2 linked regions of the Homo sapiens genome follow. The protein of the gene in region 1 interacts with the protein of each later gene in a pairwise test. Each region holds a gene or a part of one and is shown on either strand. Other genes may lie near its edges. The genes, in order: GFOD2 and BEGAIN.

Region 1 (3,913 bases):
CGACTCACTGCAAATTTTGCCTCCCAGGTTCAAGCGATTCTCCTGCCTCAGCCTCCCAAGTAGCTGGGATTACAGGCGTGCACCACCATGCCCCGATAATTTTGTATTTTTAGTAGAGACGGGGTTTCATTATGTTGGTGAGGCTGGTCTCAAACTCCTGACCTCAGGTGATCCACCCACCTTGGTCTCTCAAAGTGCTAGGATTACAGGCATGAGCTACTGCGCCCGGCCCAAAGCTTTCTTCTTTAAACTGATTTCACCTGTTAACATTATTATACTTCCAATGTATCTTCTTATAAGGGCAAGGGGAAAAACCTGCTGCAAAGTCAAATGTAAATAGAAAATTAGTTTTTATCAAGCTAGGGACAAACTGACTTTGATGATTAGAATCAGGGACCATCTTTTAAAAATCACATAGTTCTAATTTTTAAGTTTTGGGTCAGAGGAGGCTTTCTAAAAAATTGCTAGTTCTACTACCAATGTGTTCTAGTATTACTATAGAAATCAGATAGCAATTGCCCTAGCAAATAAAAATAATAATGAGGGCTGGGTGTGGTGGCTCACACCTGTTATCCCAGCACTTTGGGAGGCCAAGGCAGGCAGATCATCTGAGGTCAGGAGTTCAAGACCAGCCTGGCCAACATGGTGAAACCCCTTCTCTACTAAACATACAAAAATTAGCTGGGCGTGGTGGTACATGCCTGTAGTCCCAGCTACTCAGGAGGTTGAGGCCAGAGAATCGCTTGAACCTGGGAGGCGGAGATTGCAGTGAGCCGAGATCGCACCACTGCACTCCAGTCTGGGTGACAGAGTGAGACTCCGTCTCGATAGATAGATAGATAGATAGATAGAGAATTAGACCCAGACCAATGATTATTCCATGGCAAAGTGGGAAAACCAGGTGGTAAGAGATAACCTCTCACAACAGAATCTTTATCTGTGAAATAAGGATTCGACCAACAGAACCGTCTGTTGAAAATTTCCTCTCTTGGTCCAGGCAGGTTCTCTAAACTCCCAATCCCAAAGCAGTTAATTTTTTCACGTTTCCTGTAAAATGGATGGCCTTAAAACTCTTTTGTTCTCTAGTGTAGCTTTCCAGAAGGAAATAAGTTTCCTTATCAAGAATGAATCTAGCTTCCCCGACTCAAAAACAACCATCTTCTCTATATTGCTCCATATCACAATAAATTTAAGTGCCTTCCTTTTCTAAATTAAATGCTGTTCCCTTCAACTTAAGGGCCACACACTAAGGGCTATTCCTTTAGAGGCTTTTGGGCCCCACAGATCACAAAGGTGGTGCCCTGCCCTAGTTCTTTCTGGACATTTAAAAGGACATCCACTTTCTTGCCCTCAGGATAACATTATGGGAACAATGAACATAAATAAGACAGTTAAATAAGCTTCCCTGATGCCTATCCAATACAGCTTTCAACTCTTCTATCCTGCCTTGTTCTTTAGATCGTGCTGTAGTCTGGAGGGTAAACTCTTCACACAACCATTCCCAAGCCCTCATGTCCCTGTCCACTCTTCCTCCCTCACCTTTTAAGTGTGATAGGGCCTTGATGGGAAGACCTCACTTCACCTTTTGTCTCAAGTCCATCTGCTTCCTTCCAGAGCTACAAATACAAAGGTAGGCCAGGGCCATTGAGACGTGGCCATAGGGCACATGGGAGCTGGCAGAGCCACTCGCACCTTCTGGGGTGTCCCTTCTTCCACCTGTCAACTGAACACCCGTTTCTTAAAGATTTATCCCCAAAAGTCCCATCTCATTCTGAAAGGGGACGAACCAGCTACCCCACGAGCCCTTTGTCTGAGCTTCTACACCTCACACATCCTCATCCACAAAGCGTCCATCCTCACACAGTCAGGTGGTCCGCTCGGCACAGGGCGGGGGAGACTAGGTTTTTGCATCTGGTAAAAGGATGGGTTATGTCTCAGGTTCTTCCAGGATCCCAAATCCTATAATTCTACCACCAAGCCTGCGGGTCCTATTTCTGCGGTGGAAAGGGCGAATCCCAAGGCGACCCTCCACTCCACGCGCCTGCAGGCAGTTGGAACAAGCCCCCTCCAACCCCGGCTCTGCGGGTCCACGCCTCCAACCTCCGGCGCCGGGCCGCGGAGAAGGCCCTGTCGGCGCCCGCTCCCGGCCGCGCCATGCCCTCTTTCGCCCTCACCCGCCACCGGTGGCCGCCTCTCACCTGGCACGCTGGCATCGCCCACTCCGCGCTGCACTGGAAACCATGGGTCCGACGGGGTCTCGGGGGCCACCCATCCGCCTTAAGGAAGGCTGGCGGGGATGCGCGGGCCCGGGAGTCCAGGGCGCCGCCACCGGGAACGCGCCGCCTGGTTTCTAAGGAACTGGGGGCTCTGGAAAGGGAGGGGCGGGACGGCAGGAGGACTGCGCATGCTCCATAACGGGGATGGGCCTGCGCTGGGAGGGGCCGTAGCCGGGAGCTGCGCATGCTCGCTTTTTGGGGGCGGAGCTTAAGCAGCCTGGCTAGGAGGCTCAGGTTATTCATTTCCGGCGGCGGAGGCGGCAGTTTCCTAAGCTTGGCTTCTCTCCGGTCCGCTGACCGGCGTCAGGGACCAGGTTTTGGTAGCTGTGGGTAGCCTCAGTTGTCCTGGAATGAAAGACGGTTTCGTGTTGGACAAGGACATATCTGCAGAAGGCCAGTTCTCTCGAACTCGTCGGACTTCCTGGCTCCCTGACCCCCAGTGACTCGTTTTTCCGTTTTCTCAGGTGCCTGTCTGGGCTCCTCTTCCTCTGGATGTTTTTTGATTGTTCCTTAAATATCAGTGCTCTTCAAGACTGTAACCTCAGTCCCCTTGGCCTCTTTACTGAAGCCTATGCCCCACCAAATAGCAAACTATCCGCTAGAGTAAGGAAGCCGTTAGACCTTAGAATAAAACTGCCTGTGTAGGAAATGTGATTGGGGTTTGTATCTGCATGGGGAGCCCCCGTCCCTGCTTGTCTGACCCTCCTGCTGAGTATCAAGATCCCCACTCAGCTGGCATTAGGATGATCTCCCAGCCATCATTCCAGAGCAGCCTGTGGTGACAGAATATGTCAGCTGACCTAAGCGTGAGGCAGTTCCTACTGAGATATGCTAACTAGCAGCAGAGCTATCCCTGCTTTGAGCGGAGACAGGACTCCTACCACCTCTGTGAGGAGCATGGAAGGCTTCCAAAGTGATGAGAAGTTGTAACCCCTAAACCCCCCCTCTTCTGATGGGATTTTATCCTTTCTCTCCTGGATCCTCTAGAGCCAGGCAGAAGGAAGGCAGAGTCAAAATGTGCCTGTTTGATCTGTTTCTTAGTCATTGTTCGGAGTTCCACTCTTCTTGAGTAGGATTTCTCAACAGTGGCACTATTGACATTTTGGACCTGATAATTCTTTGTTGGGCAGGGGTGGGGGGAGCTGTCTGCATTGTAGGATGTTTGGCAGCATCCCTGGCTCTACCCAGTAGATGCCAGTAGCACCCCAAGCCCAGTTGTGACTACCAAAAATATCTCCAGACATTGCCAAGTGTCTCCCTGGGAGCAAAATCATTCCCAGTTGAGAACCACTAGTCTAGGGGGAAATGAGCCTACTCTGGCTTTACTTATATAGAACCAGGACTTTATGCTTAATCTAAAACCCATATTTTCCCCTTTATGCTACCTCTTCCCTAAGAGCATTCTATAGAGTAATAGTCCTGTAAGATTCTGCTGAGTGACACAGTCTGTAGTAACTTAAGTTTGGAAAGTGCAGGGTTAAGCAACACATTTTAACACAGGATTGAGCTTTTAATTAGCTGGTGGCGATCACTGTGAACATCCATAAGACAGTTTTCCTAATTTACTGGACCACCTCCCAATTCCAGTGACTTTTTTACTGGCAAACCTCCCCTAATTTACTGGCAAACCTCCCAAT
Region 2 (3,813 bases), on another chromosome or scaffold:
ATTATTTATTATCTGTGTGTGTGTCCCCCCGTAGAATGTAACTTCCACTGTATCCCAGCTCTTTGCATAGGGCCTGGCACATAGCAGGTGCTCAATGCGTAGTTCTTGAATGACTGACTGAATGAATGGCATAGCAGGTTCAGGCTGTCAGTTCACAAACATCCCCAGCCTGGTGTGGGCCTACTGTGACTGGAAACAGGATGAGAATATAGGGGAGGGATCTCAGGCTCTCGGGAGGCCACAGTGTCCTCCTCCCACCCTATGGTCCCCGACAGTCGCCCCTCTACACCCGGACAGCCCTTCCCCAGCAGCAGCCGTTCAGCCCCTGCCCTATTACCAGTGGGAAAGAGACTTGGAGGCTGGCAGATCCAAGTTCAAATCCCTTCTCCAACACTCCAACAGGCCTGCGGGCAAGCCACATCCCCTCCTCATCTGTCAGGTGGGCATGGGGCAGTACTCAGCCCATGGCAGTGCTGGGAAGTGGCATGAGCAAGGGACTTCAGGACTCATTAGCACTGGGGCTCTGATGTGGCCGTTTCACTAGCACGCATGGTTGCAGGAGTGTTCTGGGGGCTCTGGCCAACCAGTCCTCTGAGCTGCTTCCAGAGTTTCAGGCTGCATCAGGCAAGTTTCCGTTGTCATAACAACCTGCTGGCTCTCAGGCGCCTGGGCCTGAGGCTCTAAGGATGCTGCCGGCTACCGTGGGCTCACGGCCTGGACCTGCTCACCTACCAGCAGCCTGGACAACCTCTCCTGGAGGGGCTTCCGGCTCCTGGCACCGCAGCCCCTGCCTCTTGACTCATCTGATTCAGTCCTGCTTCCCAAGCCCATCCTGCGTGCCAAGCTCCGTGCTGTGCATGCGTCATCACCCCAAATCCCCACCCGCCTCTGTGCATCAGGACAGCCAAAGGCTCTATTTTCTGCTAAAAGAAGCAGGGTCTCAGAAAGGTGCAGTGACCCGTCGGAGGTCACATGGCTTGGGCATGTCAGGCCCAGGACAGAACCCCAAAGGTCAGGCACTCACACCCGTTTCCTCTCCAGATGCCCAAGCCCCTCTCCTGCTGCCTGGCACACACTGCCCCTGTGGTTGGAAAGCTGGCCCCTGCCAGCTCGGACAGAAGGGGCATGAGGCTGCCCACTGTCTGCTGGGATTGGAGCAGGAAGACCAGGCCACAGGATGTTGGGAGGACCCTGCCGAGTGGGCAGGCATGCCGGGCTTCTGCTGACAGTGCCAAACGTCACCTCGCTTCATTCTTACAGCAGGCCTGAAAGCTAGGAGCAGCTACCCCGCTTCACGGAGGAGGAAACTGGGCTCTGAGGGGTCTCGGGTAAACCCCCATGGTGCGGGCATGCGCCAGGGGCCGCAGCATAGGCCAGCAGAGGTGTGGTCACCTTCACCAACCTTCCCCTCGTCCCAGCACAGAAGTTTATTTTTTTTCCTTTCTTTCTTTTTTCTCTTTTGTTTTTGAGACAGGTCTCGCTCTGCTGCCAGGCTAGAGTGCAGTGGCGCGATCTCGGCTCACTGCAACCTCTGACTCCCCGGTTTAAGCGATTCTCCTGCCTCAGCCTCCCAAGTAGCTGGGATTACAGGCACGCACCACCATGCCCAGCTAATTTTTGTATTTTTAGTAGAGATGGGGTTTCTCCATGTTGGCCGGGATGGTCTTGATCTCCTGACCTCGTGATCGGCCCACCTCGGCCTCCCAAAGTGCTGGGATTACAGGCGTGAGCCACCGCGCCCAGTCAGAAGTGTCTATTATTATTCCCCTTTTGCAGTTGAGGACACTGAGGCTCTGGGAATCCGCACACTTGTGCTCCTAATCACCTGCCCCGCTGTCCCTGGATTTTCCACGCTGGCCTCAGAATCTCCAAGGGCAGCCATGGTCTTGATGTCTCCCAGTCCCCAGCACCCAACACAGGTGCCCCAGTTCTCTTCCTCAGATAGGACATGTACACAGCTGTCCAGGTCTTCCAGGGAGATCCCTGGGCAAGGACGCCCCTGTAGGAACCCCGGCTGGCCGCTGACCTTTCGAAGAGGTCTCACTGCTTCTTCCTTATTTCCTGAGTGGGTCTTCCAGGGCAAAGCGGGCCTGGAAAGGCCAAATAGCTGTTAGTTTGGGTTGGCTTTTCTCCCACCAAAGTCAAGGTGGGGTTAAGTCTCCCTGTCTGATCAGCCCCCTCCTGACCCTGCGCCTGCGTAGTATATGTCTCTGAAGCAGAGGGACATGGGGGTCTGTGAGCAAAACACTGGCATCTGGGAAATCAAGGCATGAGTGACCTGAAGCTTCACCCATTCAACCAACCGTCCTTCACCATCCACCCCTGTGACCGCTCACCCATTTACAGGTGCCATCCACGCACCAACACATCCTTCTGTCTCTGTGTCCCTCACCCGCTGATGGGCACTCATCTGTTCACTGGTCCTCTCACTCCCGTCTCCATCTGTCCGCCTGCCCATCCCTCCATGTCTGTCCATTCCTCTGTTACTTGTGTCTCGTATCCATGCATCCATTGCTTTGTATCCATTTGTGCACTGAGCTGCCTTCTCAGGCCTCTATCCACACATCCGTCAATATACACTCATCACCTATCCATGCACTCACTCTTCCAGTGTCCATTCATTCCTCTGTCCATCATTCATGGACATGTATTCAAGTATTCATCCACCCATCCCAACATCCAGGCACTACCTGTATCCATTTATGTATCCATTCCTTCATCCATCCATCCAAAGATCCTTCCATCCATTCATCTACCAATCTTGCCTTGTGTATCAGAAGTCTCCCTCCCTCCACCCATGTATCATCCATTGATATTTTGTTCTATCAATCCAGTCCTGTATCCATATCAACTTTTCCATCTGTCCACCCACCCATCCCTATCTTGCTACTTACATCCATCAACCTCTCCTCCCGTCCATCTATCCCTCTTTCTCTCTTTCTTTCTTTCTTTTCTTTTTTTCTTTCTTTCTCTCTCTCTCTTTCGTTTTTCTTCCTTTTTTTTTTTTTTTTTGATGGAGTCTCACTCTGTTGCCCAGGGGCTGGAGTGTAGTGGCACGATCTCGGCTCACTGCAACCTCACCTCTGCCTCCTGGGTTCAAGCAATTCTCCTGTCTCAGCCTCCCAAATGGCTGGAACTACAGGTGCACACCACCACACCCACCTAATTTTTTTTGTATTTTTATAGAGACGGGGTTTCACCATATTGGTCAGGCTGGTCTTGAACTCCTGACCTCAGGTGGTCCACTCACCTTGGCCTCCCAAAGTGCTGGGATTACAGGCGTGAGCCGCTGCGCCCAGCCTATCCCTCTAGGTTTCTACCCATCCATCCGCTGCTCTATCCTGCTAGTGCTTCCCTTCCATACAGTATCATCCACCCATGCATCCCCTTCAGCATGCCTGCGTTGCTTCTCCACCTCATGCACCTCTTAATCCCAGCATGCACCCACTGTGGGATGACCAGGCTTCCATGTCTGGCTTCCCCAGGCAAAGCCCAGGCCTGACCCATCTCCATCCCTGACTTGGGCTCAGGGCTTGCTGATTGAACCAATGACTGCAATTCCCCTGCTTGGCTCAGAGCTGGGCCCTGGCTGATCCCCACCCCAGGCAGACCACAGAGGCTGCTGTACTGTCCTCCAGACTCAAGGCCTGCTGAGGCAAGGGCCACTTTTGAGTTCCCTTCCTGGCTAGAGGGGAGAGAAGAGCCCCAGCAGCTCCTGACTCCTGCCGTACTGGCCAAGGTCCATGTCTCCCAGCAAACTGTGGACTCGTGGAGGGCAAGGTCTGTGTCAGACTCACCTAAGTGACCCCAATG

What was found.
Region 2: the proteins of GFOD2 (region 1) and BEGAIN interact in a protein complementation assay, tested with the Homo sapiens proteins (one large-scale study listed by IntAct).

The regions. Positions count from the first base shown.
Region 1 is NC_000016.10:67,716,965-67,720,877, forward strand, and holds the start of GFOD2 (glucose-fructose oxidoreductase domain-containing protein 2 isoform 1 precursor), read right to left. Parts: upstream 2,353-3,913; 5' UTR 2,199-2,352; intron 1-2,198. UniProt on the Homo sapiens protein: Promotes matrix assembly.
Region 2 is NC_000014.9:100,580,698-100,584,510, forward strand, and holds part of BEGAIN (brain-enriched guanylate kinase-associated protein), read right to left. Parts: intron 1-3,813. UniProt on the Homo sapiens protein: May sustain the structure of the postsynaptic density (PSD).